Regions from separate parts of the Homo sapiens genome. Here region 1 is linked to region 2. Evidence: fine-mapped expression QTL. Tissue or cell type: whole blood. Region 2 holds a variant in brackets; the other region holds the start of a gene. All regions are shown on one strand. Distances are between the middles of the regions.

What was found. PIP is the estimated chance that this variant, and not a neighbour inherited with it, causes the effect.
Region 1: ATP1B1 starts here. The variant in region 2 is fine-mapped to the expression of ATP1B1 in whole blood (INTERVAL, PIP 0.92).

Annotation. Positions count from the first base shown.
Region 1 is chr1:169,105,152-169,107,997 of GRCh38, forward strand. It overlaps ATP1B1 (ATPase Na+/K+ transporting subunit beta 1), which reads left to right and starts at 1,539. Exons shown (of 6, transcript NM_001677.4): 1 at 1,539-1,775. The coding sequence starts at 1,679. RefSeq lists enhancers at 1-529, 1,020-1,314, 1,103-1,675, 1,676-2,248 and a silencer at 587-1,506.
Region 2 is chr1:169,130,502-169,133,383 of GRCh38, forward strand. It overlaps ATP1B1 (ATPase Na+/K+ transporting subunit beta 1), which reads left to right. Exons shown (of 6, transcript NM_001677.4): 6 at 791-2,218. The coding sequence ends at 1,054. NME7 (NME/NM23 family member 7) reads right to left here. Exons shown (of 12, transcript NM_013330.5): 12 at 2,030-2,316. The coding sequence ends at 2,284. Among named protein-coding and RNA genes, the nearest start is that of ATP1B1, 25 kb to the left of the region's middle. The variant T/TG (reference allele first, on the strand shown) is at 1,530.

The DNA.
Region 1 (2,846 bases), 25 kb before region 2:
AGGATAAGGACAAGCATCCTGGTATTGGGGAATTCTCTGATATGGGGCTGGGACGTCAAGATGGGCCATGATGGCCCCTGGGGATAGGGCTTCTCTGCAGTGGAAGCAGAAGCATCCCGGTGTTTTCTGCTGTGTCACTGTCCTCAGAGGGATGTATAAAGCTGCTTGGGGGCTCATAGGAGAGGGATGAAACCAAGAGTTTGGCTTTCCAGCAACAGCGGACAAAGAGTGGGAAGGGGTACTCTATGCCCCAGGTCTGCAACATCTTGCCCTATGCGCTAGGTTTTCCCAAAGGTCCTTTGGCTCCAAGAATTTTACAGCAGAACAAAGGGATCGATACCCCCAAGGGGGCATAAAAGCATGCCAATGAGAATACCCGCCGCCGACCGGGCACCAAGAAAGTCCTCGGTGGCTGGGTCACGTGCAGATATTGTTGCCTGGGGTCTAGACTGGCCTGAGTCTCAATTGGTTTCTACGGGACAACTCACTGCGGGCTACCGCCCTGGGTGGGTTTGGCAATTGTCCTGCTCGAGGTGGTTCAGGCCGCCCACAAGGGGCACAGCCGGGCAGTCAGGAACCGGGGCTGCCGGCTGGGCTGGCCTGCAAAGAAGAGGGAAGGGCCGGAACTGCAACCGCAGTGGCGGGGAGTGCGAGGGGGCGGCAGGTGCAGGAGCGGGAGGCGGGGCGGAGCTGGGCAGAGTCCTCGCCAGTCCGGCGTCCCGGAGTGACCTTCCCCCACCCCGCCAGCGCCCAGGAGGGGTGGACCCACAGCCCAGGGAGGCCGAAAGCGCGGGCGGGCAGGCAGAGGCGTGGAGGCTGGGCCAGGACTGCCGGGCTGGGGTCCTCGAGGCTCCGGGCGACCCAGGTGCGGATCCCCCAGCCACGGAAGGGGCGGTTCACGCCCAGCCGGGAGCTGGGAGGGGGCTGCGCGGCGCTGCCTGCGCGTCCCTCACCGCCGCCCCCGCCTCCTCCTCGCCCCGCGCCCAACGCCCCGCGCCCAGCGATCCAAGCGGCCCCTCTAGCCCCGGCGGCTCCTTTGTGCCGGCCCCGAACCCGCCCTCTCGGGCCGAGTCCCTGCCCCTGGCGCCGGCGATTGGCCACCGGGCCGCTAGAGGGCGGGGCGCACGGCCGCCGGGGCGCGGTATATAGTAAAGGTAGGGCGGGCGCAGCCAATTCCTCGGCTCCTGGCGGGAGTGCCGGTGGCGCCCCGCAGTCCGCTTGTCCGTCCTTCCCTCTCTGACTCTCCTACCCCGGGCCTGTCTCTGCAGAGGTCAGGGGAGGCGGGGGCCCAGCACACGTCCCCAGTGGCAGCGGGAGCGGCAGCTACGGGTTCGCGGAGCCCCCGACCCCCCAAGGGCTAGAGGAGCGCTCGGCGGACCAAAGAAAGCCCGCGAGCGGCTGCGCGCCCACCAATAGGTGCGGGGCTCGGAGCCGCGCAGCCTGCGCCGTCCCTCCCTCCGCCCCCGCCCCGCCGCCGCCGCCGCCGCCGCCTCCCCCTCCTCCTGCTCCTGCCTTGGCTCCTCCGCCGCGCGTCTCGCACTCCGAGAGCCGCAGCGGCAGCGGCGCGTCCTGCCTGCAGAGAGCCAGGCCGGAGAAGCCGAGCGGCGCAGAGGACGCCAGGGCGCGCGCCGCAGCCACCCACCCTCCGGACCGCGGCAGCTGCTGACCCGCCATCGCCATGGCCCGCGGGAAAGCCAAGGAGGAGGGCAGCTGGAAGAAATTCATCTGGAACTCAGAGAAGAAGGAGTTTCTGGGCAGGACCGGTGGCAGTTGGTGTAAGTACGGGGTCCGCAGCTCCCGGCCGCCGCGTCTGATCTTTCCCGGGCGGCGCATCCCCTGCGCAGGGTCCGCGGCCGGTTCCGCACCCACCGCGCTGGCCGGGGTGGCGGGGGCGAGGGTGGTGGACGCTGCTGGGTCGCGCCGGCCTGGGCTTGCAGTCCTGTGCGGAATGCGGTGTCCCCAGAGTGGGGCGCAGGGTCGGGGCTGGAACACGACAGGCGGAAGGTTATGCATATCGTAGCGATCTTGGCTTGGTAATTTGCAGTCTTTCCTACCGTGCATCGGTTGAGCCTTTTACTCCTGGGAATAGTCAGGCTCTGCGAGACTACATTTGTCTCTCCCGTGTCCTGAGTCCTTAAAAAAAAAATGAGATCTGGGGTCTTGAGAGAACCTCGTGAGGTGATGGGATCTAATGCAGACGAGGTTGTGTGTTACAGCATCTTTCTTCTAGTCTAAATACGTATCTCAAAAGAGAGGAAAGAGAAGGGTGGAGAGGAATCCATCCACACTGTAGTATTTCACAGCGATGGCTAAGGATTTCCCTCCATGACCTCCCCTGGAGTCATCACCACCCAGAAATGGTTCAATAAGCTCCATTTCAGGACTCCGATTCTTAGCTTTGGCCCGAAACCTGGCAAAGTCTGGTTGTTTTCAAGGTCTACACAGACAGTTGTGGATCAGTCAGTAGGTTGGGTTGATTATGGTGAAGGGAATATAAACGCAGAGCAGCTGATCTTAAAATATTTTGTGCAGCCTGTTGCTTGGTTGGATAGACTTTTTTCCATCGAAAATTAGATTTCTTGTTTTCAGCCTCTCCGGAAAGGTGACTTTTTTTTTTTTAAAAAAAAGGTCATTTTGAAGGGCAGAGTTGTAGGCGAATCTATGAGTCGTGACTGCGTGAGGGAAGGAGGGAGGGAACTCCCCCTGCTGCATCACTGCCCCCTCCTCCTCCAACATCATCATCATCATCATCATCATCATGACCATCACCACCAACACCACTGGCACCACCACTGCAGTCATTCAGGGAGTCCTGAACAGAGGCCGATTGGTGTTCCTGCTTGGGA
Region 2 (2,882 bases):
AATATCGCCTGGTGCAGTGGCTCACGCCTGTAATCCTAGCACTTTGGGAGGCCGAGATGGGCAGATAATGAGGTCAAGAGTTTGAGACCAGCCTGGCCAACATGGTGAAACCCTGTCTCTACTACACATACAAAAATTAGCTGGGCGTGGCGGCGCGTGCCTGTAATCCCAGCTGAGGACCTGAGGCAGGAGAATCGCTTGGACCTGGGAGGCGGAGGTTGCAGTGAGCTGAGATCACGCCATTGCACTCCAGCCTGGGGACAGAGCAAGACTATCTCAAAAAAAAAAAAAAAAAAAAAAAAAAAATTGAAAGACTAAGGTAACAATTAGTGCATGTTTCCTTTGGATCCAAAAACTAATGGACCGTTTAGAGAGAAAGGCAGAACAAAGAAAGGGAGTTCCCAGACAGTGCTAGCACCAAGCAAGGAAGTGGAGATTGATTTCTCAACAAGAAAATGAGAGGCAAGTAGTAAACTTTGGAGATAATATCACTAGACAGATTATTTACTGGGCCAACAGCAAGGTGTTTCTGCCTTTCAATGTTGGCCTTGTTTCTAGGAGGCTTGAAGAATGCTTATTTGGCATTTGACTCAGCTTCCCCATCCATTTGCACATTGAGAATAGTCTCTTCTTATGACCATTTCTCAAGGCTGCAATGGAATAGACTGAGTAGATGTTCTTTCCTCTCTCAGTAGTTTGCAAACTACTGTGTAGATTGAGTCTTGTTTTTGAGTACACATAGTGATGCATGATGTGAGCCATTAAAATTTCATTTCATTCTGGATTTCAGCGAGATGAAGATAAGGATAAAGTTGGAAATGTGGAGTATTTTGGACTGGGCAACTCCCCTGGTTTTCCTCTGCAGTATTATCCGTACTATGGCAAACTCCTGCAGCCCAAATACCTGCAGCCCCTGCTGGCCGTACAGTTCACCAATCTTACCATGGACACTGAAATTCGCATAGAGTGTAAGGCGTACGGTGAGAACATTGGGTACAGTGAGAAAGACCGTTTTCAGGGACGTTTTGATGTAAAAATTGAAGTTAAGAGCTGATCACAAGCACAAATCTTTCCCACTAGCCATTTAATAAGTTAAAAAAAGATACAAAAACAAAAACCTACTAGTCTTGAACAAACTGTCATACGTATGGGACCTACACTTAATCTATATGCTTTACACTAGCTTTCTGCATTTAATAGGTTAGAATGTAAATTAAAGTGTAGCAATAGCAACAAAATATTTATTCTACTGTAAATGACAAAAGAAAAAGAAAAATTGAGCCTTGGGACGTGCCCATTTTTACTGTAAATTATGATTCCGTAACTGACTTGTAGTAAGCAGTGTTTCTGGCCCCTAAGTATTGCTGCCTTGTGTATTTTATTTAGTGTACAGTACTACAGGTGCATACTCTGGTCATTTTTCAAGCCATGTTTTATTGTATCTGTTTTCTACTTTATGTGAGCAAGGTTTGCTGTCCAAGGTGTAAATATTCAACGGGAATAAAACTGGCATGGTAATTTTTTTTTTT[T/TG]TTTTTTTTTTGTTTTTTGGCTCTTTCAAAGGTAATGGCCCATCGATGAGCATTTTTAACATACTCCATAGTCTTTTCCTGTGGTGTTAGGTCTTTATTTTTATTTTTTTCCTGGGGGCTGGGGTGGGGGTTTGTCATGGGGGAACTGCCCTTTAAATTTTAAGTGACACTACAGAAAAACACAAAAAGGTGATGGGTTGTGTTATGCTTGTATTGAATGCTGTCTTGACATCTCTTGCCTTGTCCTCCGGTATGTTCTAAAGCTGTGTCTGAGATCTGGATCTGCCCATCACTTTGGCTAGTGACAGGGCTAATTAATTTGCTTTATACATTTTCTTTTACTTTCCTTTTTTCCTTTCTGGAGGCATCACATGCTGGTGCTGTGTCTTTATGAATGTTTTAACCATTTTCATGGTGGAAGAATTTTATATTTATGCAGTTGTACAATTTTATTTTTTTCTGCAAGAAAAAGTGTAATGTATGAAATAAACCAAAGTCACTTGTTTGAAAATAAATCTTTATTTTGAACTTTATAAAAAGCAATGCAGTACCCCATAGACTGGTGTTAAATGTTGTCTACAGTGCAAAATCCATGTTCTAACATATGTAATAATTGCCAGGAGTACAGTGCTCTTGTTGATCTTGTATTCAGTCAGGTTAAAACAACGGACAATAAAAGAATGAACACATTCCTCGTGTGTGATTCACTCTTGTCTAAATGTCCCAACCTGTGACTTCTTTACTTTCCACACCACTAATTATCCAAGATCTTGAAGAAGTATTGAACCTGAAACGGAGAAACACATAATTTCTTAGTTCAGACAAATTTTGGTCTTTTCCACTTAACAGAGTCCAAGAGGTTGGTCAGGACTTCAGACACTGGCATACCCCTTCCCAAAGACACTAAAAGTTAATCAATCAATCAGAGGCAGAGAATCGATGAAGCTCCAGTTTGAAGTTCCATTTAAAAAAATCATCTTGCAGTGCTACTGCTACTTCACTCAGTTTAGAAAACATGAAGTGTTGGTTCCTGCTATTGCTTCACTAGACATATGTGTTAAAAAAAAAAGTTGTTAGCACTTCAGTTTTTAAAAAATGAGGTTAGGTTTGTGGTTCAGTAAATTAAGGTTCATACCTTGCTTTTTGGTTCAGGGATTGGCCTAAGTCCTTATTTAGCTGTATTTAAAAATTAGCCTTAGTGTGAAAGAAGATAAAAAAGCTTTCCAAAAAACATTTTCCAGCTATAATTATTAAAGATTTAGTATCACTTAACTAACATGGGAAATGCCCACACTAAAATCAGGGCATTGTATTTCTGAAACGGAAACCTTTCGCAAAGCCTGTGCAGGCAGA